Regions from separate parts of the Homo sapiens genome. Here region 2 is linked to region 1. Evidence: fine-mapped expression QTL. A gene starts in region 1. The other region holds a variant in brackets. All regions are shown on one strand. Distances are between the middles of the regions.

Evidence for each region. PIP is the estimated chance that this variant, and not a neighbour inherited with it, causes the effect.
Region 2: its variant is the best candidate, but not a certain one, in a credible set for the expression of HIPK1 in whole blood (INTERVAL, PIP 0.89).

Annotation. Positions count from the first base shown.
Region 1 is chr1:113,922,332-113,938,103 of GRCh38, reverse strand. It overlaps HIPK1 (homeodomain interacting protein kinase 1), which reads right to left and starts at 8,780. Exons shown (of 16, transcript NM_198268.3): 1 at 8,572-8,780. It overlaps HIPK1-AS1 (HIPK1 antisense RNA 1), which reads left to right and starts at 8,579. Exons shown (of 3, transcript NR_110726.1): 1 at 8,579-8,742; 2 at 9,716-9,860; 3 at 13,772-14,103. RefSeq lists enhancers at 1-349, 8,550-8,869 and silencers at 8,050-8,359, 8,380-8,429.
Region 2 is chr1:113,840,171-113,855,942 of GRCh38, reverse strand. PTPN22 (protein tyrosine phosphatase non-receptor type 22) reads left to right here. Exons shown (of 21, transcript NM_015967.8): 8 at 894-1,036; 9 at 1,406-1,472; 10 at 3,839-3,916; 11 at 7,317-7,403. The region is part of intron 3 of AP4B1-AS1 (AP4B1 antisense RNA 1); the gene reads right to left. Among named protein-coding and RNA genes, the nearest start is that of PTPN22, 24 kb to the left of the region's middle. The variant AAT/T (reference allele first, on the strand shown) is at 6,347.

The DNA of each region.
Region 1 (15,772 bases):
GGTCCCAGCTACTCAGGAGGCTGAAGCAGGAAAATCATCTGAGTCTGGGACATTGAGGCTACAGTGAGTTGTGATTACTCCATTGCACTCTAGCCTGGGCAACAGAGCTAGATCCTATCTCAAAAAAAAAACCTGTCTCAACCTGCCTTAAAATGCACTCCAAAATCTGCTTGCTGCCTTCCAACATCTCCCCACTTTGATTCCTCCCCTAACCCCCACTCTAGCCACACTGCCTTTCTTTCTTTAGTTCTTGGAAGGCCACTCACCTCCAGGCCCTCTAAATATGTTGAAGACTTTCTGCTGCGAAAACTGCCCTGACACCTCTGTCACATGCAGAAACGCTCCCTACGATCACCCCCTGCCCCCACCATGCATTCCCACAGCAACCTGTTAACTTGAAAGTATTTATTTAATGCTACATTCCCAGCTACAGTATAAGCTCCGGCACATGTACCATCTCTGTCTTGCTCTTCTATCACCAAAGCCTTATACAGACTGACAATATATACATACTCAATTATCTGTTGGATGAATTATTTGACCCCTGCCTACCAATCTCATATCTATTAAATACAACTCCCTACCACTCACATTCAACTGTAGTATTTTCAAATGCTCGATCCTTGATTTTTTTTTTTTAATGTCTTCCCTCCTTTTTATCTGTGTGGTCCTTGAGTCATGGGGGAAGTCTCTACTCCAATCCATACAGTATAACATTACTAATCATAAAAGAATAAACACAACAAGAAAGGAAGGAAACATGACAAAGGATGTTACAGAACATCAAAAGGCAGTAAGTACATTTCTTTGTGCCTGAATACAACTAGAAACCACCTGCACTGGACTAGTCAGCTGGAAAGAACAAATCCTCTGCCTTCAATTTCTAAAACTCAGTTGAGATTTACTTTAAGAGTTTCCATAATTTATATAAACTTTGAAGAGAAAAAAAAGTACAAATTAAAAGCTAAGGTCAGTACAATTTAACTGTGAGGCTGAATTTACAAATCATCTTGTTCTACCTACTTCACTGAAATACCAAATATAATAAAAGAAAAATCTGAAACCAAGTACCTCCTTTACAAAATGCACCTATTAAAATATATGTGTAAGTATTTATCATAAAATTAAGCCAACCTGTTGAACAACAAAAGGAAGCAAATTTTCTAAATTTGTTTTCCATTAACAATGTTAATATTGTTCACCTAATTTTAACAATCTATCAAAAAACATAAACACAACTTTTATGTAACTTGAAGTATTTAGTGAAAGAATCTAAATAGAAAATTTGCAGTTTGTAGCAACTGTCTAGGAATAGGGGGGTCATAAAGTAATACTGAAAAGAATTCATGAAATACCAAATTTTTAAAAATGTATTCATTTTGGGAGGCCAAGGCAGGCAGATCATGAGGTCAGGAGTTCGAGACCAACCTGACCAACATGGTAAAACGCCATCTCTACTAAAGATACAAAAATTAGCTGGGCGTGGTGACACGCACTTGTAATCCCAGCTACTCAGGAGGCTGAGGCAGGAGAATCACTTGAATCCGGGAGGCAGAGGTTGTAGTGAGCTGAGATCATGCCATTGCATTCCAGCCTGGGCGACAGAGTGAGACTCCATCTCAAAAAAAAAAAGGATTCGTAACTAGATACTCTATAAAATTTTGCATTTGGCAGAGTAACATTATTGCCAACTTTTTACCCAAAAAACATAATAAAAGATTACTTATGATTTCAGATCTTCACACTGGGCACTGAAAAAAGTACAAGTTCTAGGATATTTTTCAGAATGTTTTAATATTAAATGATTATAGTTCTTATCCATAAAGACAAATTTAGTTCACCCAAGGGGAAAGGACAACTCAGAATTCTTTCACTGGTCTTCCCCACAGCAAGGGTGTGATGTACAAAAAGTCAGTATCAGACCACCGGGGTTCTTACAGTGTGGCTGAGACTCATTCTGACCTCAATTAACACAAGGTGAGAAGAAAATACAGAATCACAATGGCCTAGAAAAACCAACAGACTCTTATTTATATTCTACTCTGAAACTCAGCTAAAACAGCAATTTCTAGACACAGGATAAAGATATTATGTTCTATTAAACTTGCCTTTGCAAGTGGGGAGGCAATTCTCTTCCTAGGTGGAGAGCTTTCAAACAACAACAACAACAAAAACAGAATTAACATCTGTGGAAAACTTACTATATATCAGAATCTGTGAGGCAAATTACAGATATTTTCAATTCAATGTGAATAGCAACTCAATAAATTAAAAAGCTATTTTTGACACACTTGCAGTCAACAAGCATATGAAAAATTGCTCAACATCACTAATCATTAGAGAAATGCAAATCAAAACTAAAATGAGATACCATCTCACACCAGTCAGAATGAATATTATTAAGAAGTCAAAAAATAACAGATGCTGGCAAGGTTGTGAAGAAAAGGGAACACTTATACTGCTGATGGGAGTATAAATTAGTTCACCCATTGTGAAAAGCAATGTGGCAATTCCTCAAAGAATTTAAAACAGAATTACCATTAGATCCAGCAATCCCATCACTGGGTAAATACCCAAAGGAATATAAATCATTCTACCACAAAGACACAAGCATATGTTCACTGCAGCACTATTCACAATAGGAAAGACATGAAATTCAACCTAAATGCCCATCAATGGTAGACTAAAGAAAATGTGATACATATACACCATGGAATACTATGCAGCCATAAAAAAGAACAAGACCATGTCCTTTGCAGCAACAGGCAACATGGATGAAGCTGGAGGGCCACTATCCTAAACAAACACAGAACAGAAAACCAAGTACTGCATGTTCTCACTTAAAAGTGGGAGCTAAAGAACGAGAACACATGGACACAAAGAGGCCAACCACAGACACTGGGGCCTACTTCAGGGTGGAGGGTGGGAGAAGGGAGAGGATCAGAAAAAATAAATGTCAGGCACTATGCTTATTACCTGGACGACAAAATATCTGTACACCAAACCCCTGTGACATATAGATTACCTATATAACAAACCAGCACATGTACCCCTGAACCTAAAATAAAGGTTTAAAAAAAAAAAACAGCTGATTCTTTTTTTTTTTTTTTTTTTGAGACAGGTTCTCACCACTGTCAGTGAGGCTGAAATGCAGTGGTGTGATCACAGCTCACTGTATCCTCGAAATCCTGGGCTCAAGCAATCCTCTGCTTCAGCCATCCAAGTAGCTAGGACTACAGGCACACACCAGGACGCTTGGCTAATTTCTACAGGCACATGCCACAGTTGGCTAATTTTTTTTTTTTTTTTTTTTTTTTTTCAGAGATGAGGTCTTACTATGTCACCCAGGCTGGTGTCAAACTCCTGCTCTAAAGCAATCCTCCTCCTGCCTTGGCCTCCCACGATATTGAGATTACAGGCATGAGCCACCGTACCTGGCATAAAAAGTTATTTTTGACTTCCTGAAAATGCTGCGCCTCTTGACTCCAGCAATAAATGAAGTCTTTACATTTCAAATCTGACTTTCCAAGGACTTAACCATCTCAATATAATGACAAATTTGCCCAGTTCATTAATACCAAAGTAGCAATGATGGGCAAAAGATCATTGGTACTTGTACTTATTGCTAAAAGATAATAGCTAGAATCCAAGGCTTTCAAAAACAGATTAACAACTTTCCCACTCCCTGGCATGGTCACATCCATTTAACATTATTTACTGGGTGCTCCACACTATAAGCACTATAGGCAAATAATCTTATTAAAAGGATCCAAATATTATAACCCTGAATGGAACAGTTGGATAAGACAACCCAGGTAATCATTTTCCATTGATTTGTCCTTACCCCTCAGTAACCTTTTTCCTGACACACCAGTAATAAATTCCTGTTGCTTTTGCTCAATGTTATCTTTGCCTCTTTCATACAATTTAACAGCTGGTTAGCCAAATGACCTAAAAACTGTACTATATATTGATTTCTTGCTCCAGCACTTATCCTCAGATGACATGAACACAGGTATACATATTGTCTATCACATACTCTGATACATATTTTTTACAGATGATAAGAGTACATCTTCTGTAAAAACAAAGTGAGACAAGTTTGGGAAGAAAATTCTTCCCAACAGAACACCTAAATCTCTCTCTACTCTCCTAAGTTTTCTCCACCCCTACTGCACAATCCCATACTTAAACAGCTTAACTGGTTTCCTCCAAATTGTACTCTCAACTTCCCCCCTTTATTTGAGACTCTGTCACCCAGACCGGAGTGCAGTACACGATCATGGTTCGTTCACTGCAGCCTGGACCTCCAGGGCTCAATCCACCCTCCTACCTCAGCCTCCCGAGTAACTGGGACTACCAGTACATGCCACCACGCCCAGCTAATTTTTTTGTATTTTTTGTAGAGACAGGGTTTCACCATGTTGCTCAGGCTGGTCTCAGACTCCTAAAGTGATCCACCTACCTCAGCCTCCAAAAGTGCTGGGATTACAGGTGTGAGCCACGATGCTGGCCTCAAGCCCCTTTTCTAAGCTCCCCTCTCCCAATTCATTATTCACCTCTCAACTGAAGCTTTTAAAAATGCACATCTGAAAAAAAAAAAGTGTACCTATCCCCCACTTAAAACCTTAGGACAAACACCAAAATTCCTAATTTGGATTACCAGGCCTTGCAAGATCTGGACCACGATTACTTGCACAGCCTTGTTTCATCTGCGCTTTTCCCCAGGCACTTTCTCTTCCAATACTACCAAGTCTCTCTGGGTTCCCACAATAGACCTTGCCTTCTCTGGCCCTAGTTCCTTCAACATGTTTCCTCTCTGAACTTCATTTTCCCCCTTAGGCTTTTCTTTTCCTAACTTTTACTTACCCTTCTAGTCTCTGCTTAAAGCTCACTTCTTCAGTGTGGCAGAGGCTGTTGCTTTGTATCAAAATCAATAGTTCACTTAGATTTATTTGGAATGACTACGGCAACAGAACAAAAGAAAAGTAAGTGCTTTGTGTTTAGTAAAAAGGTACTACATTTTAGTACCTGCACATAACAGTCTATAGGTCTATAAAGCTTAGAATTAAGAAAACTATACCTTGAGGAGTTTCCAGGATAAGAAAAAGTTAAAATTAACAAAGCAGAGATCAATATGAAACATAAACAATATGCCAGCAAAGGCTGAAGGAAAACGGGACTTAAGTAAGGCAACAGCAGTTTGGAGAATGGAAGATGGAGGAGGCTCTTTCAGAAGAATGAGATGACTTTTGCTATGCTAGTATGCCAAAGGATGTGGAAAAATAAAAAACCGTGTAGAGTAAGGAGATATATTTAACTGGAGCAGAAGACACTAGCAAAAAAGTACTGGAACTCTTACAGATAAAAGGGACCTTAAAGATTCTAAAACCCCCTAATTCCGAGATGAGAAAAAGGCGATCCAGGCCAGGCATGGTGGCTCACGCCTGTAATCTCAGCACTTTGGGAGGCCGAGGCAGGTGGATCACTTGAGGTCAGGAGTCTGAGACCAGCCTGGCCAACATGGCAAAACCCTATCTCTACTAAAAATACAAATATTAGCCAGGCATGGTGGTGCGTGCCTGTAGTGCCTGTAGTCCTAGCTACTTAGGAGGCAGAGGTATGAGAATCACTTGAACCCACCACTGCACTCCAGCCTGAACCCACCACGGCACTCCGACCTGGGCGACAGGGCGAGATCTTGTCTCAAATAAAAAAAAAAAAAAAAAAAAACAGATCCAAAAAGGCCAAACGAGTTTTACCCAGCGCTAATGAGTAGCAATGCTGGCAAAGGTCTTCTCATTCTTTTTCCTTAAGCACTCTGGGAAAGCACTGTACCAGGTACCCTTAAAGAATCTAAAAGAAATGTAAGTTTCCTTACCTTCAAAAAACTTAAAATGTTGCTGAAATGATATAACACATGAAAAAGAAAGAAAAATATGAAAACAGGATGTAAATTTTTCAAGTGCCAAATTATGCACTACAGGAATATATTAGGCATTTAGGAGCTGGGTTCCAACAACTAAAGGGAAGATCAGGAACAAAAACAAAAGGAACCAAAAGACAAACCAGTGATTGTTGAAGTGGTACTTAAAGGAAAATAATCTTGATGACTTGTGTTCAGAATGGCACAAAGGGAGAGGAAGGGAAGATAACGGGAGGAATAATAGTAAATTTTTTTTAAAAAGACCTAAAAAATACAGACTGCTGTTATACACTCATGCAGGTGGCAGATCAAGCAGCTCATGTTTGCAAAATTACTTCAAATTACAAGACCAGTTACAATATATAACTAACAAGCTGCACAAGTTCCAAGTGTAAGAACTTTACAAGGCCGGTATGACTCACTGATTTGTACCAACAAATCATTGATGGAGCTGTGCTTATAAAAACAAAAGCACAGAATGAAAGAAGTTTATTTTCCAAAGAATTGTGAACTTTGAGATTATCTCTTCTTTTTTTTTCTTTTAGAAGGAAGTTCTGGTTTGGTTTGAAGTCTCAAGTTACCAACGAACTTGCTCAAAAAACCACAAAACTACAGTGTCGAGAGATAAACTATTCATGAAGGTATCACCAGCAAAAGTTCTACTTGCCAACCAGAGCCAGTATATTTATAAGATCTCATTCACCATTTTATTCTAAGATACTTTACTGGCTTGGCTGCCTCCAGTTCCAACCGCAAGTACTTTACTAAAATATCTTTCAAGCCAGGAACAGTATCTTAAAGTCAATGCCACCCTTCATCATAACAGTATTATAACACAGAACCCTGAGATAATTACATGTAAAGATCCAAAATCACCAGCTGAATAATGAAAATTAGGTCAAATGATTTGTTAGATTTTAAAATGTTTTATAGAAAGCTTTAGGCTTCCATATGAAAAAAGCTAGTAATAGTTTGCATTCTCTATAATCTTACAAAAAAAAAAAAAAAACCCACAGACCAGAGATCAAAAATAGCTTTACACAAACAAAAGGAAAATTGTAGGTTTGCTGAGGGCATCAGCCACTTAATTTAACCCTATTTCATCAAGAGCGGGAAGCCACACTGCTGTTTTCACCAGTTACTAAGAAACAAGATAAAGGACAGATTGGGACAGAGAGTCTATAGCTGAAAGTATTATGTTGATGCAATTACTGAGAATTCCCAAAGTGTCACTAATAGACAAGAAAGAGCATCTAGGACTGCCTCTAAATGAGTCTACCTACAACAGAATCAGTGATTAAGTAAAGAAAAGACTTACTGGAGCTTGGGGGTTTTCCCCCCCTCTTCCCTACCCGCATCCTCCCATCCTGAACCCCCCTCCCCAAGTAGGAAAGAAAGCTCGCCCAGCATAAACACAGGCCATTGCTCACAGCTCGTCACCACAACAAACTGGAGGTTAGACCAACGCTCCTGGAGACGGAACTCCACGTCTTGGTTGCTAAGCACAAAAAGGGGACTCTTCCCCACAGACCTGTGAACAGTGTGGGCCTTACCAGAATTTTGGTTGTTTCTCCACCTTCCCCCTCCCTTTTGTTTTTTTAACGAAAGCTTTGAAAGTGGTGGCAGCAAAAGTTTCCCTTTGGGCCAGACCTCTAGATCTCCCTTGTACAGATATACATTAGGTGGGCTGGTCTCACGTAGTCTCCACCGTCATTACGAATTACAAGCCTAACGACTACAGAACATCAGCGGAGACGACAGAAAAGCTTCCACACCCACCCCACTGTCGTCCTCTCCAGGCACGGCTTCCTGGTCCCAAACAGCACAAATAACCCAAAACCATGGTGATAAGCGGAGCTGTGAAGTACACACGCACAAGCCACACACTGGGAACCTGCCACGACAGCCGGGGAAAAAACCGGCCGAGTGAGGAGACGCAAGGCGGTCCCCTGTCACTTAAGGACAACACGCCCAGGCGAGAAGTGGCAGGAGGCAGGGGGAGTTGCCCCGAAAACCAGCCCGGAGCCTCCCCACCTTCCTGGGAAGGCAATCCCCTCAGCGGCAGTGAGCGGCCGGGCCGCAAGACGCGGCGCCCGGTCCCAGGCAGGGGCCCTTTGAGGAAGGCGCCCCCGGCAGGCTGGGCGCTCCAGGAGAGCCGGCGGCCGGCCCGGCCCCGCCTCAGGGAGCTGAGGGGAAGTCGCTCCCCGCCGAGGACCCCTCCTGCCCGTCCCCACTCACCGCCGGTGTGTCTGGTTCTCAGCCGCGAGCTGGGGCTGCCGTGAGGAGGCGGCGGAGGAGACGAGATCTGGGGCCCCGCAGCCGGGTCATCATACCCCCCGCGCGAGCCGGCCCGGGCCCCGGCCCCCGCCCCCCGGAGCCGTCCCCGCGCCCGTCCCGCAGGGGGAGCCTCCTCAGCCTCCCTCCCGCTCCACCACCCAGCCCCTTCCCGCCGCCGCCGCCGCCGCCTCAGCCCCGCGCGCTCCCGCCTCGGCCTCCTGCTGCCGTCCGGGGCTACCGCCGGGCCCCTTGCTCCGCAGCCGCCGTTGTCGCCAGACCCGACGAACGGAATGCCGAGCGGCCGTCCCTCAACCCGGCCGGCCCCGCCTCGCCGGAACTATTCACCCGCCCCGCGCCATGACACCTACTGAGGCGGAAGTGCAGCTGAATGGACTCTCTAGGACGATCGCATAGTACTGATTGCAGTAGGAGTCGGTGGGCCTCGAGTAGGTGGGCCTCCGTAGGGAGCCAGCGTGGATCGAGTGCGGGGCCTGGACTTCCCGCCCCCTCCGCACTGCAGACTCTGCGGTGATTTAAAGGTGCCTGGCGGTGGTACGGGATCCAACTGTAAAATGTCATCCCAGCTAGTGTGACATCACCACAGTTTAGTGTGACACCCCCAGAGCTTGGGCAGTGTACGGGACGACAGTGCCTAGCAGAGGAGCTTCACTGCCGGTGAGGGATTACCTCAGGTTAGGCTTTAATGTTTCGTTGCCGTCTAGAGACGTTCTAGCAATGTGACATCTGTGTACCATATCTGGAAGTCTCCCTGTACGTCAAGAGCCCCTTAGGGGAGTCTCCCATTGCCGCCGTGGGAACCTGTGTTTACATTACGAGGAGAGAGAATAGCTGTACTCTGAACTCAAACGCTCAAAACATGCAGTGAGCGAATGCTAGCATAATTTTCTTGCCTCTACCAGAAGGAAGGCTGGGTATTTAGGAAACAGAACGCGTTGGGCACAACATTCTGAGAAAATGGACACAGAAAATTAGGTTATCCTAATAGAAAAGCAGTTGCATCTCCCAAAGTCAAGAGATTCTGTAGGACTTCCGATGTATCTCCTGCTGTGTAAAATATTCAGGTTCCTGAAGTGGGGGACATTTTTAGGGCAACTGTAATTTCTTCATTTTTTCCATCCCACAAGTGCTGGAGGCAGCAGTGATCTGAGCTCTAGAAAGTGACTGTCCGTCACCATCGGTATTTGCATATACTCTGTGAGGAGAAGGGCAGTTGTGGCTAAGACAAAATTCTACTATCAAGTTTTGTTTCTCAAATCTCACTCATTAACATCTTTGATTTCCTTGGATCCCCATAACACACACAGAAAACTATGATTTGTGTAAAATGCGCTGAAGTACCTTTTAAGGGAAGTCATTTGGCTTTCTCTCTGGCTTAACAACACGGGGAGCAGTTCCATTTTATCTGGAACAGGGAAGTTTATTTCCCTAGAGAACTAGGGTTACCAAAAATGTTCGATCCCACAAGGCAGTTTTGTTTGCATATTTTCACAGAAACTTCCTTCTACTACTTAAAGTCCTCACATTGGGCTGACCTGGGAAACATGAAGATAAAAAGAGTGGGTAAACATGCCTGCTTGATGAGCCAGAAAAAAAGGCAGAAACCTGTGGTCTGGGTAGAACAGATCCTGCTCAGAATGTAAGCTTCAAACATGTTTATCATGCCTTGGTTCAACCTAACTCTCTGACATGTTCCTAAACTCCTGCTCTCTCAAGTTATGTCCCTTTCCTCTTTTCAAATATCTCTCAGAATTCACCCTTTCGGGAACCTTTGCTGATTGACTCCTATTTTATTTGAATTCTGCATCATCATCTGATTACTTAAATTAACCTGTACCTTCTTTATTTATACTTGTTAACTTCTATTTTCATTGCTCTTAGGTCCTCAGTCTTTCTCACTATACGGAGAGCTTCTTAAAGTCTGTATTTTCTCCTCTTTAGTATCATTCACTCATTCATCCAGCAAACTGCTTGTGTGCCTGCTCTGTGCTATACACTCTTCTAGACACTGGGTCAGGTATGAATGAGACAGGTGAATAAAGCATGGTCTTTTCCCTCAGGGACCTTACAGTCTAATGAGGAAAAAACGTGTGCAGACATATATAAGATAAGTGAGAGAGTCGGAGAAGAACATCAGAAGTGATATTTGAGCATAGTAAGGTCAAAGAAGTTTCAAAGTTTAGTCATTTGTCCATTCAGTAACTATTTATAGAGCATCTTCTGTGTGCTAGGCACTATATAAGAAATTAAGGGGCTGGGTGTGGTGGCTCATGCCTGTAATCCCAGCACTTCGGGAGGCTGAGGCAGGTGAATCACCTGAGGTCAGGAGTTCGAGACCAGCCTGGCCAACATGGTGAAACCCCGTCTCTACTAAAAATACAAACATTAGCCAAGTGTAGTGGCGCATGCCTGTAATCCCAGCTACCCTGGAGGCTTAAGCAGAAGAACCGCTGGAACCCAGGAGAAGAAGGCTACCATGAGCCGAGATTGCACCATTGCACTCCAGCCTGGGCGACAGTGAGACTCTGTCTCAAAAAAAAAAAAAAGAAAGAAAGAAAGAAATAAAAAAAAAAGAAATTAAGGATACACAGAAGAAAAGGCATGGTCTGTGCCCTGAAGGAGCTTACAGTTAAGCAGAGAAGTTGCACGATTTGGAAGTAGTAAGGTAAATTGAGTCAGATTTTGAAAGGCAATGTAGAGCTGTTAGAAGTTTATTCGCACAGGTAGCCAGGCACAGTGGCTCATGCCTGTAATCCCAGCACTTTGGGAAGCCAAGGTGGCAGATCACTGGAGGTCAGGAGTTCAAGACCAGCCTGGCCAACACAGTGAAACCCCATCTCTACTACAAATACAAAAATTAGCCAGATATGGTGGCATATGCTTGTAATCCCAGCTACTCGGGAGGCTGAGGCAGGAGAATCGCTTGAATCCGGGAGGCAGAGGTTGCAGTGAGCCGAGATCGTGCCACTGCAGTCTAGGCTGGGCAAACAGAGCCAGACTCTGTCTCAAAAAAGAAGTTTATTCAGACAGGTAATGTGAGAGAGAACTAGTGATGGTGAAGGAAGAGGGCTAGCTGGAGTGGGTAAAGACTGGAGAAAGGGATCCTAATCAGAAAACTATGATGAGGGTTTGATTACACAGGAAAGAAGGCGAGAAGGGGCAGATATGTGAAATACATCCTCCTAAACCAAGTCAGAGCAACTGGAGAGGGAGGTGGAGCAGTTAGCAATCGGAAGCATTCAAGTTTCATTCAGGGTATGACATCCTTCTAGGGCCTACAGCCTAGATTCAGTGTTGCAGGCAAGAAGTCATTTGCCCAAGAGCGGCAGTGCTTAAGGCCAAATAGGAGAAGCTGATGAGAAGGCTGTGTCTTGAGAGAAGCTGAACCAAAAAGCTAGGCAAACTATTCAAACAAATAGTGAATCCTAGGGGCTAGGAAAAAAAAGAGAATTTAAATAGAAGCCAACAGGTTGTGAAACTGGGAAAACCAGATTAGAGTGAAGGTCTGCAGTAAACGATAAAAAGCAGAAAAGTCCCTTGAGCCAACAGGAGGAGAACCTCAATGATTTTTTAAAAATCCAGACCCCAGAATACTTTTTATTTGGAAATAATGTTAAACATACAGATATGTTGCAAGAGTGACAAAAAGAGGACCCAGATTATTAACATCTTGCCCCTTTTGCTTTATCATTTGCAGTTATAGATAGATAGAGTTATATTACACACATACATGCCTTTTTTTTTTTTTTTTTTTTTTTTTTTTTTAGACAGAGTCTCACTCTGTCACCTAGGCTGGAGTGCAGTGGCATGATCTCGGCTCACTGCAACCTCCACCTCCTGGGTTTAAGCGATTCTCCTGTCTCAGCCTCCCGAGTAGCTGGGATTACAGGTGCCCGCTGTCACACCTGACTAATTTTTTTGTATTTTAGTAGAGACGGGGTTTCACCGTGTTACCCAGGCTGGTCTTGAACTCCTGAACTCAGGCAATCCACCCACCTCAGCCTCCCAAAGTGCTAAGATTATAGGTGTGAGCCACCGTGCCCAGCCCACGTACATATTTTTTTTTCCAAGCAGTTAAAAGTAAATCGCATGCATCATCCTCCTTTACCACATAATACTTGAATATCCTAATAAGTACATTCTCTTATGTAAACAAAATACATACAATTAACAACTCCAGGAAATTTAACATTGCTGTAATACTTTACCATCCATGTTCCAAATGTTGTCAGTTGATCAAATAACATCATTCTTAGCATTTTTTTTATTTTCCAGCACAAGATCCAGTTTAGGATCATATATTACATTTAATTGTCATGTCTCTTTAGTGTTCTTTAATCTGGCACAGTTCCTCAGCTTTTCTTTGTCTTTAATATTTTTGAAGAATACAGGACTTTTTCTGGTAAGGGGTAATAAAATGTTCTTCATGGCTGGGCGTGGTGGCTCACGCCTGTAATCCCAGCACTTTGGGAGGCCAAGGTGGGTAGATTGCAAGGTCAGGAGCTCAAGACCAGCCTGGCCAAGATGGTGAAACCCCATCTCTACTAAAAATACAAAAATTAGCCAGGCGCGGTGGCAGGTGCCTGTAATCCCAGCTACTTGGGAGGCTGAGGCAGAGAATTGCTTGAACCCGGGAGGCGGAGGTTTCAGTGAGCCAAGATCATGCCACTGCACTCCAGCCTGGGCAACAGAGCAAGACTCTGTCCCCCCGACCAAAAAAAAAAGATCTGAGCATTAGGCCCACAGTGATTTATTACTGAATGCTTGTATGTGAATATCAGCCCTTCAGCCTCCCTGCTCATCCCTTTCCTCAGGTTGCAAGCCTTAGGTATTACCAAGATTTTTCTCTTAAGACTCCTTTTGAGTATCCTTAGCAGAGAAAGCTTGCATAGGGAAATTTGGCAGACACTGTCCGTTGCCTATTCAAATGAATAGTTAGGTTTAGCTAACTTGTGTAGCAAACAATCCCCATACCTCAGGGGCTTATGGAAAGGTCACTGCTAGCTGGTCCATGATGGCATGTGCTTATAGTCCCAGCTTCTCAGGAGGCTGAGGCAGGAGGATTGCTTGAGCCCAGGAGTTCAAATCCAGCCTGGGCAACATATTGAGACCCCCATCTCTAAGGTAGATAGATTAGATACATGGATGGATGGATGGATGGATAGATAGATAGATAGATAGATAGATAGATAGATAGATAGATAGATATTACTGATATTGGTGAGAGCCACTACTCCCATCTCTGAGAGAGGGAGAGAGAGAGAGAGAGAGAGAGAGAGAGATAGTATTTGATCTTCGAGAGAGCGGTTTTAGTGGCATAGTTTGGGCAGAAGCTGTGTGGTTCCTATATAGGATTACTCATAGTATGAGTGGTGACTGACAATCTGGGAAGAATGGCCTGGTCCAGCTGAATGGTAGAATCTATTCTGGTCAATACCCATATTCAGCTCTCAATATCCAAGGAATCTGCTTGGGTCCACATCAGCTACATCTGAGAAGTTATGAAATGAATCATTTTGACTACATTCTCTATCACTTCTCTTCTCACAGGTATAAACCAGGAAAAGTTGTTCTGGCCCCTCATCTGGTTTCATGAAGGACAATATCTAGCATGAGAGTGACAGGGGTTAGAATAATGGACATTTTGGGGACTGGGTCCTAGCAGAAATGATGGAATAATGGAACAGGAGTTTGGATGAATGGGCATATTATGGGATTAAAGAAGATTTGAATACAAGCTTTCCTAATAAATGAAAGGGGAGGTGAAACTAGAGCATGCTGATGGCTGCACAGCATTGTGAATGCACTAAATGCACTAACTGTCCACTTTAAAATGTTTAGTAATATGTCGATTTTACCTAAATAAAAAAAAGGAAGCAACATAGTGAGTCATCGTCTCTATAACAATTTTATTCAGATGTCTTGGAGGATAAACCTTTCTTTTTTTAATTAGCCAGGCGTGGTGGCACACACCTGTAGTCCCAGCTATTCAGGAGGGTAAGGTGGGAGGATTGCTTGACCACTAGAAGTTGAGGCTGCAGTGAGCTATGATCTTGTCACTACACTCCAGCCTGGGCAACAAAGCAAGACCCTGTCTCAAAAAAAAAAAAAAAGTGGGGTGGCAGGGAGGGAGGTTTTCAGGATTTAGAGACAAGGCACAATTACCCTTAATTTTCAAGGGTCAACCCAGAGACTATTGTGGGGAAAGAACAAATGCCTTGACTCCTTATATAACCCATGTTTATGACTCCTCAGACCCTCCTTCCTCCATAATCATTTCTAATGTCACCCTTTTCTACACATAATGATCTTACTCTTTCTCACTTTTCTCATATACCAACTGTTTATGTAGCAAAAGCAAGGAATAGTGCTTTTTCTCCCTTTCCTTGGGTCAGCATTTCTCATTATTATGCTTCCTCTGTTATGTAGTTTCTAACCTTTTCTTTTTTTAAAAAATCATCCTCCCCACTCTAAGATTCTCACCTTTTCTTTGACCAACTGTTACACAGAATTTAGCATCTGCATTCCATATGTCTTTCCCTATCATCAATTTCAAGCAATATCTAAAACCAAAATAAATGGTTTGGGAAGGCACACAGAGACCCACATGAAAAGGGCAATGGAGCAGAACAGGAACTTGAAATTTAATAATTGAATATTATTTGTGCTAAGTCATTTTGTACTTCCCACAAACTCAGAAATCAAAAAGCCCCAATGAAGTGTCCCCTGCCCAGCACAATTCCTTACACATGGTTGGTGCTATAACTGTTTTCATGAGTAAATTACTGAGCGCTTATTCGCAGTGCTCAAAGCATCAGGATCAGTTAACTATAGAATAGGGGTTAAGAAACTTCAAAAGGACTGGGTACAATGGCTCCTACTTGTAATCCCAGCATTTTCGGAGGCTGAGGCAGGAGGATCGCTTGAGTCCAGGAGCTGAAGGACCAGTGTGGGCAACATAGTGAGACCTCATCTTTACAAGAAAAAATTAAAAATTAGCCAGGTGTGGTGGTGTGCACCTGCGGTCCCAGCTACTTGAGAGGGAGGCTGAGGTTGGAGGATTGCTTCAGCACAAGAGACTGAGACTTGTGCCACTGTACTCCAGCCTGAGTGACAGAGCCAGATCCTGTCTCAAAACAAACAAAAAAAAAAAGAGAGAGAGAGAGAAGAAGGGAGGGAGGAAGGATGTCAGGGAGGGAAGGAGACTTCATATTGTTCACGCCTGTAATTCCAGAACTTCAGGACTGGGAGGCCGAGGTAGGAGGATTGCTTGAAGACAGGAGTTGAAGACCAGCCTGAGCATCATAACAAGACCTCATCTCTATTTAAAAAAGAAGAAACCTCAAAATAACAATTATCGTCATTGACTGTGAATTTAATTTTTTTATTATTACTTTTGTAAACTCACTTTGATGAAACCTGTAAGCAGTCAACAGGTGGTTCTTTTCACTCAGGGTAGGATAGGGGAATGTGCTCTATGCAAACCCTAGAGGGTAAATTCGCTGATGTGAAATAGGCTTTTACCTGACCAACCTCACTGCTCCTAGGATA
Region 2 (15,772 bases), 82 kb after region 1:
TAGGGTGAACAGAAGCTGAACAGTGCATAGAGACTGGGGACCAGTTTGAGAGCTTAGGCTGCCCTAGGCCCTGCCCAGCTTCTCTAAGGCAAAAAGATTTAATATATCAGCATGATTGTGACACATTGGAGGCATACCAGTTGGGAAACACTGGTTTGAACTATTTTCATATCTAGCTATTTCCTCTTGTGAATGGGGCAGATGGGGACAAACCAATAGTAAGTGACCTGAAATCACTTTTAATGGTTTTCAGAAAGCATCTGGTCACCTGAGATCTATAGAGAAGAAACCGGAATAAATTTCAAAAAGGATATAGATACAACTTAGTATGCCGGACTGTTGTCTTGGTATAATGAGGTGGAGTTCTAACCACAAGTTGTCTTATTATCCTGGCTATTTTTAAAATAATTTCAACTTTTTTTTTTTTTTTTTTTTTTTTGAGACAGAGTCTCGCTCTGTCACCCAGTCTGGAGTGTGGAGTGTGCAGTGGTGCAATCTTGGCTTACTGCAACCTGAGCCTCCTGGGTCCAAGCAACTCTTGTGCCGTGGCCTCCCCAGTAGCTGGGACTACAGGTGCTCACCACCTTGCCTGGCTAACTTTTGTATTTTTAGTAGAGACAGGGTTTCCCCATGTTGGCCAGGTTGGTCTTGAACTCCTGACCTCAAGTAATCTGCCTGCTTCGGCCTCCCAAAGTGCTAGGATTACAGGCGTAAGCCACCACACCCAGCCTCAACTTTAATCTTATGAATATAAGACACAAGGGCGTAAATGTGCAGGTTTGTTGCATGCATGCCACTGAATAATCCCATCACCCAGGTAGTGAGCATAATACCCAATAGGTGGTTTTTCAGCCCTTGCCCCTCTTCCCCTCCCATCTGGCTACTTTTTATAGGAAACTCGAACTATCTACCAGTTTCATTACAAGAATTGGCCAGACCATGATGTACCTTCATCTATAGACCCTATTCTTGAGCTCATCTGGGATGTACGTTGTTACCAAGAGGATGACAGTGTTCCCATATGCATTCACTGCAGGTATGACACTATATATAAACCTTCTACCCAAAATGAACCAAATGTCAGAGTCTGGCCAGGACTGTGTAATTGAAAGGGGAAAAGGTTAATAGCAAAAACAAACGATAATAAATTCAACCTAAGCATTAAATTCATGTTTTTCTGATAAGTTACTTGTGAGTAGTACAGTTCTAGAGACTCTTGCTCTGAGATGTTGCCTAGGACCTCTTGCATGACAAATGGGCTCTGGGAAATGGTGGGGTTTGGAAAGTTTAATTGTCCCCAGGTATCTTCTTCCTCAAATCTGCTGGTGAAATTTTCCAGCTACTGTCAATGGTCCATTCTCTCTAGGTATACATGCATACATGCTACTGTGATCTTTCATTTCAGTGCTGGCTGTGGAAGGACTGGTGTTATTTGTGCTATTGATTATACATGGATGTTGCTAAAAGATGGGGTGAGTTTCTCTCAGCAGGCACTTCCCATTTGCTTAGTCTACTGCTTTCATACTTAGTAATTGTTTGGTTTTTCAAAACATCTATCTTCATGATTCATCTTTTCTAGAAAATGTACTTGTAGACCCACTCTGTCAGACGATTAAATTAGTTCCCAGGTAGGTGGGTCTTAAAGGGTGGTCCCCAGACAAGAAGCATCAGCATCACCTGAGAACTTGTTAGAAATGCAATATATATTGGGCTAAGATATGTTATTAAAATTAATTTCACCTCTTTTCGGTTTTGAATGTGTCTATTTGAAAATTTAGGCCGGGCACAGTGGCTCACGCCTGTAATCCCAGCACTTTGGGAGGCCGAGGGAGGTGGATCACGAGGTCAGGAGATCGAGACCATCTTGGCTAACATGGTGAAACCCTGTCTCTACTAAAAATACAAAAAAATTAGCCGGGCATGGTGGTGGACGCCTGTAGTCCCCACTACTCAGGAGGCTGAGGCGGGAGAATGGCTTGAACTGAGGAGGTGGAGCTTGCAGTGAGCCAAGATCGCGCCACTGCACTCCAGCTTAGGTGACAGAGCGAGACTCTGTCTCAAAAAAAAAAAAAAAAAAAAAAAAGCAAAAAAAAATTAGCCAGGCATGGTGGCATGTGCCTGTAATCCCAGCTACTCAGGAGGCTGAGGCAGGAGAATTGCTTGAACCCGGGAGGCGGAGGTTGCAGTGAGCTGAGATTGAGCCACTGTACTCCAGCCTGGGTGACAGAGAGAGACTCCGTCTCAAAAAAATAAAAATAAAAATAAAATACATAAAGGAAAAGAAAGAAATTTTTGGCCGGGCATGGTGGCTCACACGGTAATCCCAGCACTTTGGGAGGCCGAGGCAGGCTGATCACCTAAAGTTGGGAGTTCGAGACCAGCCTGACCAACATGGTGAAACCCTGTCTCTACTAAAAATACAAAATTAGCCAGGTGTGGTGGCGCATGCCTGTAATACCAGCTACTCGGGAGGCTGAGACAGGAGAATCACTTGAACCTGGGAGGTGGAGGTTGCAGTGAGCCAAGATCATGCCATTGTACTCCAGCTTGGGCAACAAAAGTGAAAGTCCTCAAAAAAAAAAAAAAAAAAGAAAGAAAAAGAAAATTTAAAATCACATATGTGGCTCACATTATATTTTACTGGATATCACTGTTCTACTGTTGCCATTCTGAGTTGACAATTCTAATCAAAACCAAGCAAACTTGGCTGGTTGCAGTGGCTCATGCCTGTAATCTCAGCACTTTGGGAGGCTGAGGTGGGCAGATCACCTGAGGTCGGGAGTTCAAGACCAGCCTGACCAACATGGAGAAACCCTGTCTCAACTAAAAATACAAAATTAGCCGGGCCTGGTGGCACATGCCTGTTATCCCAGCTACTCAGGAGGCTGAGGCAGGAGAATCGCTTGAACCCGGGAGACAGAGGCTGCAGTGAGCCGAGATCGCGCTGTTGCACTCCAGCCTGGGCAGCAAGAGTGAAAGTCCGTTTCAAAAACAAAACAAAACAAAAAGCAAAAATCAAAACCCAAGGAAACTAGATATTTCACTTAGCTTGTGCAGCTGTTTTAGTAGACATATGATTTCTGTTAGTTCTTGTGAAATACTGAAAATAGGTCAAATATTTCTATTTCTACTTTGTCAGACTCCCAGGAAGTCTGTAATTTATATGTCCTTTAATGTTTGTTTTCCAATCTTTGGAGATTCCAATAGTGTAGGGGTTGAACCCCAAGGGGGTTAGGTGCACCTAACCTAAGGTGAAGGCAAATTACTGGGCCCCACCCCATTGAATTGAATCATGTCTCTAGAGATGGGGGCCCAGCAAGCTGTCCAGGTGATTGTGATGCATGATGAAGTTTGAGGACCACTGTCCTAAATTATATAGTTACCCTTCCTTTATCCAAAGATGCTTTAATAGATGGACTCAACTTACTGCAATCATACTTTGCGTTCCAATCTATAAATCATTTTTTAATGTCTAATAGGAAATGGGAAGTTTAAAATATGGCCTTTAGACCTACCTACCAACCTCTTTTATTTTATGCAACTCTCATACTTGTGCATCTACTGAATCCTGTCCCTCGTTATATCTATAGTTTTAGACATTTGGTTATACCGTGTGAAATCATTCTGAAGAGTTTCTTTAGTCTTTTCTAGGGAAAATACCAGGCTCTAAATCATGTTGCAAGTGATAAGAAACCTCATTTGTTTTAAAAATGCATCATTTTTCTGATATTACCCCATGTTAGAAGAGCAGATGCCATGGAAGTACAAGACTATGAAAAAGTAGCAATAATTTATTAACAAAATATTGAAAGGAATATTTTCCCCTTTAATTTGATAGATAATTCCTGAGAACTTCAGTGTTTTCAGTTTGATCCGGGAAATGCGGACACAGAGGCCTTCATTAGTTCAAACGCAGGTATGAACTATAGTGAATGGATCAGAACATGTGTCTGAGTCTTGCTCCATCTGTTTAATGGTGAGGCATCCAAAAACAGCTGACTGCTCAGATATAACACCAATTTACCATTACGTGCTCTAGAGTCCATTGCCATTTTCTCTAACTCTGAATATCCCAATATTTTTCCTGTATCCCTTGTCCTGGGTCAAATTCCTTTCATTCCTTATTTTACTGTCTGTTCAGAAAATATTAAGATACCAATGTAATATTACTTACTTCCTTACAAAGGATGTTGTAAAAGTATTCAACAAACTGACTTGTGGACTTGAAATAGCTAGGTCATGTTAATTTGAAATTTTGTAGTGATAAAATTCATCTCTGAAAGCATAGAAAATCAGGGATTTGTAATTTCTACCCAGGATGTGGTAACAGAATATGGAGAATTCAGTCTATGTGCTCGTTTTAGGAAACACTGAAAAATAAAAATAAAAACCATATTCCTATTACCTACAGATAGCCACTATTACTATTTTTCTATAGTTTCTCCTGATTCTTATTGCATGCATACTTAAAAAAGAAAAAACATAATTGGGCCGGGCGCGGTGGCTGACACCTGTAATCCCAGCACTTTGGGAGGCCAAGGTGGGTGGATCACCTGAGGTCAGGAGTTTGAGACCAGCCTGACCAATATGCTGAAACCCTGTCTCTACTAAAAATAAAAAAATTAGCTGGATATGGTGGCAGGCACCTGCTAATCCCAGCTACTTGGGAGGCTGAGGCGGGAGAATTGCTTGAGCCTGCGAGGTGGAGGTTGCAGAGGGCCGAGATCACACGACTGCACTCCAGCCTGGGTAACAGAGTGAGACTCTGTCTCAAAAAAAAAAAAAATTACAATCACACTCTATTTATGTATCACAATCTTTTAACCTACCCCAGAATACCCATACTTGTTCACTCCATTAGGAATGCTCTTCCCTTCTCCTAGCCCAAATCTCTCACTGCCTACAATATTAATTTCACCCATATTTCTACACGAATAGTTTTACCCAATAGTTTTAGTTTTCTAAGTGGTCTCCATTTTTAATATAGAATTTAGAATTGACCCATTCATTCATGAAACGTGTATTGATGTTTATTAACAGGCACTTTTGTGTAATTTGTTAGAACTACTTTTAACTACTTAAATAGCAAGACCTTAAAGTGTTTAAAACACTTACAAATGAAGATGCAAATAGTTTTAGAGATAAAACAACTGACAATGGCAATTCAGATATTTAGTCTAGAAGTTGTGAATTAAAGGGATAAAATAAAGAGCTATTATAATATAAAACTGTTTGGCCTGCACAGATTTTCCACTAATAGCTGGTGGAAAAAAATAACTTTCATGTGTGCTGAGTGTAGGTGTTTTCTATATTCAACCTGTGAGGGAGAAAGCTTATGTGAAATGAAAGCATTAGCTGGTTTAATGCTGTCAGACTTGAAAGAAGGCTGATCCATGTAAATGCATAAAGATTCCAGAAGTATGGAACCTAGTTATATAAATAGCAATACTAATTTAATAAAACTATACCCCATTTCAAAAACGAATTTCATTTCAGGCCTACTTTTAAGAGTTGGAAGACGCTGAAAAAGCCTTCACATTTTGGCATTATCAAACAACTAACTGAACTTGACAGTTGTAGCTGTTTTTTCTGACACTACTGTAACCAGGAAATGGCACTGTAACCAGATGAGAGCTTCCTGTCTGATTTTTCTTTTTCTTCCTTTCTTTCCTTCCTTCCTTCCTTCCTTCCTTCCTTCCTTCCTTCCTTCCTTCCTTCCTTCCTTCCTTCCTTCCTTCCTTCTTTTGAGATGGAGTTTCACACTGTCACTCAGGCTGGAGTGCAATGGTGCGATCTTGGCTCACTGCAACTTCTGCCTGCCGGGTTCAAGCAAGTCTTCTGCCTCAGCCTCCCGAGTAGGTGGGACTCCAGGCACGCATCACCATGCCCAGCTAATTTTTTTTGTATTTTTAGTGGAGATGGGGTTTCACCATGCTGGCCAGGCTGGTCTTGAACTCCTGATTTCGTGATCTGCCTGCCTCGGCCTCCCAAAGTGCTGGGATTACAGGCGTGAGCCACCATGCCCAGCCCTGATTTTTCTTTCTTAAAGAAATTAGCCAGATGTGGTGGCTCACCCCTATAATCTCCGCACTTTGGGAGGCTGAGGCAGGTGGATCACTTGAGCTCAGGAGTTCAAAACCAGCCTGGGCAACATAGTGAGACCCTGTCTCTACAAAAAATACAAAAATTATCAGGGTGTAGTGGCAGGTGCCTGCAGTCCCGACTTACTTGGGAGACTGAGGTGGGAGCATCACTTGAGCCTGGGAGGTCGAGGCTGCAGTAAGCCGAGATTGCATCACTGCACTCCAGCCTGGGCAACACGGTGAGACCGTGTCTCAAAAAAAAA[AAT/T]AAATAAATAAATAAATAAAGAGCATACTAATGGCTGTGTTGAATGATATAGACTCTGCATTGTTTCCTGCTAAAATTATCTTTGAAAAAAAATTGTTCTTTATTTGTACAGAAATGTGTAAAGTGTCAGGGAAAACCCTGAATAGGCCCTTTCAGGTAAAACCCTGATTAGGCCCTTTCAGATAAAAAGTAGGTTCAAAATTAAGTGCTTGAGAAAGTACAGGCAAAAACAGAGTAGTAATAACTCATAAACCTTGTAATAATAGAGGTCTCATTTCTCTATGGTGAAATCCTTTTGTAACCACAAATTTCAAAACCTTATTTAGTGGTTTACTTTTTTTTGGTATCTTTATTAGGACAAAATTTTAGCAACTTTATCTAAATGCACTGAACTAAGAGTGTGGAAATTAAGTTTCTAAGCCAAGCCCTGGAAATTCCTTCTGAATGACCTGGGATAAACTGTTTGTAAATAGGTATAAATAGCTTATCTACTTTATAGAGCAATTGTGAGGACCAAATTAAAGCATAGACATTGAAGTTATCTATCTATATACCAACCACTATCTCTTTTTCCAGAAAAGATGAAGGTTGCTTACAAAAAATCCATCTAGAATGAAATATTTTTTTTTTTAATGTGAGCAAGGGAAACAGAATTAGAGAAATGATGGTGGAGAGAAAGATAAGAAACTAGGTTTAGAACATAAAAGAAACAAGTCATAAGATTCCTGTACATTAGTTAGAGGTGTATCAAATATTTAGCTATTTTCAGCAGCATAAAAGTGCTTTGAAATCTGAAGTGAACTACGTAAGCATAAGGCATTGTTAGTAAGTTTAATAACATGCCGATCGTCCTTTTGGGTCTGCTATATTAGGATTTGATTGGTGTTCATATTCCTAAAATCTGGTCCTGTCGTTCACCAATTTTTTTGTTTTTGTTTTCATTTGTTCTGGGTTGTGATGCTCTTCAGGAACAATATGAACTGGTCTACAATGCTGTATTAGAACTATTTAAGAGACAGATGGATGTTATCAGAGATAAACATTCTGGAACAGAGGTAAAATTTAAACTAGATATTATGTCAAAAAAATTTTCATACTTGCTTTTGGTCAAGGGATGTCAGATTTGTTGCAGGATTTATCTATTGTCACAACTAAATTGAGAGCGTCAGGTGTGCATAGGGCTGCACTGAAAATTTCCTGTGGAAAATGACAAATTAATTTGATGTAATTTAACTTAAAAAATTAATCTCACTAAGTCCGGTGGCTCACACCTGTAATCCCAGCATTTTGGGAGCTCGAGGCAGGCAGATCACCTGAGGTCAGGAGTTCAAGACCAGCCTGGCCAACATGGTGAACCCCATCTCCAAAAAAAAAAAAATTTAGCCAGGAGTGGTGGGGCATACCTGTAGTCCCAGCTACTCCAGAGGCTGAGGCAGGAGGATTGCTTGAACCTGGGAGGTGGAGGTCGCAGTGAGCTGAAATGGCACCACAGCACTCCAGCCTGGGCAACAAAGTGAGACCCTGTCTCAAAGAGAAATAAAAATTTAAAAATAATCTCTTGGCTGGGCAAGGTGGTTCATGCCTGTAATCCCAGCACTTTGGAAGGCCAAGGTGGAAGGATTGTTCAAGCCTAGGAGTTTGAGAGCAGCCTCAGCAACATAGCAATTGTCTCTACAAAAAAATTTTTCCAAATGGCCGGGTGCAGTGGTTCACTCCTGTAATCCCAGCACTTTGGGAGGCCAAGGTGGGGTTTTGCCATATTGACCAGGCTGGTCTTGACCTGGGATCAGGAGTTCAAGACCAGCCTGGCCAACATGGTGAAACCCCATCTCTACTAAAAATACAAAAATTAACTGGGCATGGTGATGCGCACCTGTAATCCCAGCTACTCAGGAGGCTGAGGCATGAGAATCATTTGAACCCAGGAGGCGGAGGTTGCAGTGATCTGAGATTGCACCACTGCACTCCAGCCTAGGTGACAGAGCAACACTCTGTTAAAAAAAAAAAAAAGCCCCAGCAAAAAGAGAAGGCTTAACTAAGATTCAGAGTCTCATAACAATGTGAAAATACCCAGATTTCAGTTGAAAATCACTTATTATACCAAGAACCAGGAAGATCTCAAACTGAATTTAAATAAGGACAATAGGTGACAACACCGAGATGATACAGATGTCAGAATTATCTGACAAGGATTTTAAAGCAGCCAAGATAAAAATGCTTCAATGAGCAATTAAAAACATAGTTAAAACAACAACAACAAAACAATAAAAAGAATGAAAATATAAAAAAATAAAAAAGGTAAAAACATGCTTAAATCAAATTAAAAAATACAAAGCCTCATCAAAAAAAAAAAAAAAAGAGTCTCAGCAAAGAAACAAGATATAAAGAGAACCAAATGGAAATTTTAGAACTTAAAAATACAGTAACTGAAGCAAAATAGATGGGTTCAACAGCAGAATAGAGGGTACGGAAAAAAGAATTAATGAATTGAAAAGTAGAACAATAGAAATTGCCCAGTCTGAGCAACAGTGATAAAATAGACTGAAAAAAAAATAAACAGAGCTGCAGGGAACTAAGGGACCAAAAAAAAAAAAAAAAAAAATCTAGCATTGGGTCATCAAAATCCAGAAAGAAAATAGAAAGGGCAGGGCTGAAAAAGTACTGGAAGATACATCATAATTAAATTTCTGAAAACAAAAAACGACAAAAAAGTTTTAGAAATCAGCCAGAAAAAGATGACACCTTAACTGTAGGAGGAAAACAATTAGAATGACAGCAGATTTTGCATTAGGAATCATAGAGGTCAGAAGGAAGTGGCACAATATTTTCCAAGTGCTGAAAGAAAATAACTGTCAATCCAGAGTTTTACACCCAGTGAAAACATCCTTCAGGGCTGAAGGGGAAATCAAGACATTCTCAGATGAAGAAAAACTAAGATAATCTGTTACCAGTAGACCTACCCTAAAAAAATGGCAAAGGAAACTTTCTAAACCGAAAGGGAATGATGAAAGAAGGAAGAAAGAACATAATAAACAAAAGTGGGTAAATATAATAAACTTTCCTTCTCCTCTTGAGTTTTATAAATTATGTTTTACAATTGAAGCAAAAATATAACACTGACTGATGTTGTTCTAAATGTATTAAAGGAAATATTTTAAATGATTATAACAGGAGGATGGTAAGAAACATAAAGGAAGGTAAGGCTTCCACACTTGAACTGGTAAAATGATAACACCAGTAGAGTGTGATACCATATATCTGTATCTATATCTAGAGCCATGACTAAAAAAAGGCTATACAAAGAGATATAATAAAACACACTATAGGTAAATCAAAATGGAATTCTAAAAAATGCAGGAAAGAGAAAGCATCAGGAAAAAGAAAAGAGCAATGAGAAACAGAAAGAATAAAGAGAAAACAAAAAATAAAATAGCAGAATGAAACTTGACCATATTAATAATTACATTAAACATATAAGCCTAAATACACCAATATTTACTGGTGGTAGAGTGAATTGCCAGACTGGCATAGAGAATTAAAAAACAATTCAACTATATGTTGTCTATGAGAAACTCACTTCAAATATATAAGAGGGCTAAAAACAAAGGAATGGAAAAAAGTTATATCAGTAAACATGAATCAAAGGAAAGCAGGAGTGGCTATGTTAATATCAGATAAAGTAGACTTCAGAGCAAAGACAATTATCAGAGATAGGGAGATAATGATAAAAGGGTCAATCTGCCAGTAAGACATAATAGTCCTAAATGTATATAGACCAAACAATGAAATTGCAAAATATGTGAAGAAAAACTCATAGAACTTAAAGGAGAGAAACAGATGATTCACAGTCATAGCCAGAGACTTCAATATTCTTCTTTCAACAATTTTGATAGAACTAGACAGAAAACCAGCAAGGATATAGGTGAACTCAACACCACTAACTGACAAAATCTAGTTGACACTTACAGAACACTCTACCTAATAAGAATACACATTCTTTTAAAGTGCTTATGGAAAATATATATCAAGATAGAGTATATCCTGAGCCATAAAAATCTGAAAAATTTGAAAAATTTTTTTAAATTGAAATTAGCCTGGGAGCAGTGGCTCACACCTGTAATCCCAGCACTTTGGGAGGCCAAGACAGACGGATCACATGAGGTCAGGAATTTGAGACCAGCCTGGTCAGCCTGGCCAAACCCCATCTCTACTAAATATACAAAAATTAGCCAGGTGTGGTGGTGGGCACCTGTAATCCCAGTTACGTGGGAGGCTGAGGAAGGAGAATCACTTGAACCCGAACCTGGTAGGCGGAGGTTGCAGTGAGCTGAGATAGCATCACTGCACTCCAGCCTGGCCAACAAAGCGAGACTCTGTCTCAAAAAAAAAAAAAACAAAAACAAAAACAAAACAACCAAAATTATACAGAATATATTTTCTAACCACAATAGAATCAAATTAGAAATCAGTAACAGAGACCGGGCATGGTGGCTCTTGCCTGTAATCCTAGCACTTTGAGAGGCCAAGGTGGGAGGATTCCTTGAGGCCAGGAGTTCAAAATGATCCTGGGTAACACAGGGGGACCCCCGTCTCTACAAAAATTAAAAACTCAGCCAGGTGTGATGGCATGTGCCTGTAGTCCCAGCTACTCAGGGGGCTGAGGTGGGAGGATTGCTTGAGCCTGGGAGGTCAAGGCTGCAGTCAACTGTGATTGTGCCACTGCACTCCAACCTGGGTGACAGAGCAAGACCCTGTCTCAAAAATTAATTAACTAATTAAAAAAAGAAAAAAATCAGTAACAGAAAGGTAACGGAAAAGTATCCAAATCCTTGGAAATCAAACCACACTTTTCTAAATAATCTATTGGGTCAAAGAGAAAGTCTCAAAGGAAATAAAGAAACACACTGAATTAAACAAAAATGAAAATACAACATACCAAAATTTATGAGACAGAAGCAATAGCAGTACTGAGAGGGAACTTTATAGCACTAAGTGCATCCATTAGAAAACAGTATAGGTCTCAATAATCTAAGCTGTCACTCCAAGAATATAGAAAAAGAAATAAAGAGCAGAAATCAATGAAATTGGAAACAATAATAGAGAAAAATCAGAATTGGTTTTTTGTTTGTTTTTGTTTTTTTGAGACAGAGTTTCACTCTATCACCCAGGCTGGAGTGCAGTGGCATGATCTTGGCTCACTGCAACTTCCACCTCCCAGGTTCAAGCGATTCTCCTGCCTTAGCCTCCCAAATAGCTGGGACTACAGGTATGTGCCACCATGGCCAGCTAATTTTTCTATTTTTGTAGAGATGGGGTTTTGCCATGTTGGCCAGGCTGGTCTTGAACTCCTGACTATCTGCTTGCCTCGGCCTCCCAAAGTGCTGGGATTACAGGCGTGAGCCAAGGCATCCAGCCTGGTTTTTTTAAAAGATAAAAAAAAATCGTTCTTTAACAAGATCAATGAAATTGACAAACCTTTTTAAAAACTGACACAGATAAAAAGGGAGAAAATGAAAATTACCAATATCAGGAATGAAATAGGAGCTATGTTGTCCAGGCTGGTCTTGAACTCCTGGGCTCAAGGGATTTTCCTGCCTTGGCCCCCCAAAGTGCTAGGATTACAGGCGTGAGTCACCACACCCGGCCCAGAATGGATTATTTTCTCAAACACAATCTACCACAATTTACTCAGCATGACATAGATAATTTGAGTAGCCCCTTAGTGATTAGAAAAATTGAATTTGTAATTTTAAAACTCCCAAAAAAGAAATCTCAGGCCCACATAGTTTCACTAGAGAATTCTATCAAATGGTTAAGGAAGAATTAACACCAATTTTATACAGTCTATACTAGGAAATAGAAAAGGAAGAGATACTTTCCAATTAATATTTTTATTGTGGTATAATATATCATTTTAATTTACTATTTTAGCCATTTTTAAGTGTACAATGTAGTGTCATTAAGTATATTCACAATGTTGAGTGACTATCACTATTTCTGGAACTTTCATTATTCTAAACAGACCCTCTGTATCCATTAAACAATAACTCCCTATTCTCCCCTCCCACTGGCCCCTGGCAACCATCCTTCTACTTTCTGTCTCTATGAATTTGACTACTGTAGGTACCTGATATGGGTGGAATCATATAGTATTTGTCCTTTTGTGTCTGGCTTATTTCACTTAGCGTAATGTCCTCAAGGTTCATCCATGTTGTAACGTGTCACAATTTTCTTACTCATTAAGGCTGAATAATATTCCATTGTATATGTTTATACACACACACACCACACACACACACACACACACATTTTGTTTATCCATTCATCCATCAATGGATACTTGAGTTCCTTCCACTTTTTGGCTGCTGTAATGCTGTGATGACCATGGGTATACAAATATATATTTGTATCCCTGCTTTTAATTACTTTGGGTATAACCCAGAAGTGGAATTACATGTGGTAATTCTATGTTTAGTTTTCTTTTTTTTTTTTTTTGAGACGGAGTCTCGCTCTGTCGCCCAGGCTGGAGTGCAGTGGCGGGATCTCGGCTCACTGCAAGCTCCGCCTCCCGGGTTCACGCCATTCTCCTGCCTCAGCCTCCCAAGTAGCTAGGACTACAGGCGCCCGCCACTACGCCCGGCTATTTTTTGTAGTTTTAGTAGAGACGGGGTTTCACCGTTTTAGCCGGGATGGTCTCGATCTCCTGACCTCGTGATCCGCCCGCCTCGGCCTCCCAAAGTGCTGGGATTACAGGCGTGAGCCACCGCGCCCGGCCGTTTAGTTTTCTTTTAGAACAGCCATACTCTTTTCCATAGCAGCTGTGCCATTTTACATTCCCACCAACAGTACACAAGGATTCCAATTTCTCTACATCCTGGCCAACACTTTTTATTTTCTGTTTTTTGTTTATTTGTTTGTCTTTTGAGCACAGTCTCGCTCTGTTGCCAGGCTGGAGTGCAGTGGCGCAATCTTGGCTCAATGCAACCTCTGCCTCCCGGGTTCAAGCGATTCTCCTGCCTCAGCCTCCCAAGTAGCTGGGATTACAGGCACATGCCACCACGCCCAGATAATTTTTGTATTTTTAGTAGAGATGGGGTTTCACCATGTTAGCCAGGATGGTCTCAATCTCTTGACTTCGTGATCCGCCGGCCTCGGCCTCCCAAAGTGCTGGGATTACAGGCGTGAGCCACCACGCCTGGCCTATTTTGTTTTTTTGATGGCAGCCATCCTAATTAGGTGTGAAGTGGTATCTCATTGTGATTTTGATTTATATTTTCCTAATGATTAGACACCTTTCTGTGGTCTTATTGGCCATTTGTATATCCTCTTTGGAAAAATGTCTCTTCAAGTCCTTTGCCTTCTCCCACCCACCCCTACTTTTTTTTTAGTCAGGGTCTTGCTCTGTCATTCAGGCTGGAGTCCAGTGGCACCATCATGGCTCACTGAAGCCTCAAACTCTTGGGCCTTAAGTGATCCTCCCACCTCAGCTCCTGAGTAGCTGAAACTATAGGTATGCACTACCACACCAAGCTAATTTTTTTTTAATTTTTTTTTTAGAGACAGGGTCTCATTATGTTGCCCAGGCTAGTCTTGAACTCCTGGCCTCAAGGAGTCCTCCCATCTCAAACTCCCCAGTAGCTGAGACTAAAAGCATGAGCCATGGTGCCCAGATTTTGCTCATTTTTTAATTGAGGCTGTATGCGGTGGCTCACGCCTGTAATCCCAGCACTTTGGGAGGCCGAGGCGGGCAGATCACTTGAGGTCAGGAGTTTGAGATCAGCCTGGCCAACATGGTGAAATCCCGTCTCTCCTACAAAGACAAAAATTAGCCGGGTGTGGTGGCGTGTGCCTGTAATCCCAGGTACTTGGGAGGCTAATGCAGGAGAATTGCTGGACCCCAGGAGGCAGAGGCTGCAGTGAGCCGAGATCGCACCACTGCACTCTAGCCTGGGTGACAGAGTAAGACTCTGTCCCCCTCCACCAAAAAAAAAAAAAAAAGAGTTGTTTACATGTTGTTGAGTTTTAGGAGTTCTCTATGTATTCTGGATATTGATCCCTTATCAGATATGTGATTTGCAAATACCGTCTTCCATTCAGTCAATGGGTTGCCTTTTTGCCTTTGTGTCCTTTGGTGTGTAAAAGTCTTAATCTCAATGAAGTCCAATTTTCCTATTATTCTTTTGTTGTTTGTGCCTTTGGTGTCCTATCCAAGAAATCGTTGCCAAATCCAATGTCATGAAGCTTGCCCATTTTCTTATAAGAGTTTTACATTTTACTTCTTATGTTTAGGTATTTGATCAATTTTTGAGTTAATTTCTGTATCATAAGATAAGGGTCCAACTTCATTCTCTCTCTTTTTTTTTTTCCTTTGAGATGGAGTTTCGTTCTTGCTGCCCAGGGTGGAGTGCAATGGCGTGATCTTGGCTCACTGGAACCTCCACCTCCCTGGTTCAAGTGATTCTCCGGCCTCAGCCTCTTGAGTAGCTGGGATTACAGGCATGCGCCACCATGCCTGGCTAATTTTGTATTTTTAGTAGAGACGGGGTTTCTCCATGTTGGTCAGGCTGGTCTCAAACTCCTGACCTCAGGTGATCCACCCGCCTCAGCCTCCCAAAGTGCTGGGATTACAGGCATGAGCCACCGCACCCAGCCTCAACTTCATTCTTTTGCATGTGTATATTCAGTTTTTCCCAGAATCATTTATTGAAAACACTCTCCTTTCTCCATTGAATTTTCTTGGCACTTTTGTCAAAAATCAATTGCCCACCATATGTAAATGTTTTTTTCAAAGCTCTTCTATTCCATTGGTCTTTAGTCTATACTATGTCAGTACCACACTGTTTTAATTACTGTAGCTCTGTTGCAATTTTTGAAATCAGGTAGTGTGTCATTCAACTTTGCTCTTCTTTTTCAAGATTGTTTTGACTGTTCAGTGCCCCTTGAAATTCCATGAATTTTAGTCTGTTTTTTAAACAAATTATGTAAAAATGCCATTGGGTTTTTGATAAGAATTGCATTGCACTTGTAGATCACTTTGAATGTCTATTTATTTATATCTTATTTAATTTCTTTCAGCAAAGCTTTGTAGTTTTCAGTATACAAGTCTTTTGCCTCCTTGGTTAAATCTATTCCTAAGTATTTTATTCTTTTTGATGCCATTATAAATATAACTGTTTCCTTAATGTTCTTTTCAGATTGTTCATTGCTAATGTATAGAAATGCAACTCGTTTTATGTGTTCATTTTACATCCTGCAACTTTGAATTTGTTTATTAGCTCTAGCAGATTTTTTGTGGAATCCCATATATAAAATCATGTCATCTGAGACTAGAGATAATTTTACTTCCTTTTTTTCCAATTTTTTTTTTTTTTTTGAGATGGAATTAAGTTAGGGTCTTATTCTGTCGCCCAGGCTGGAATGCAGT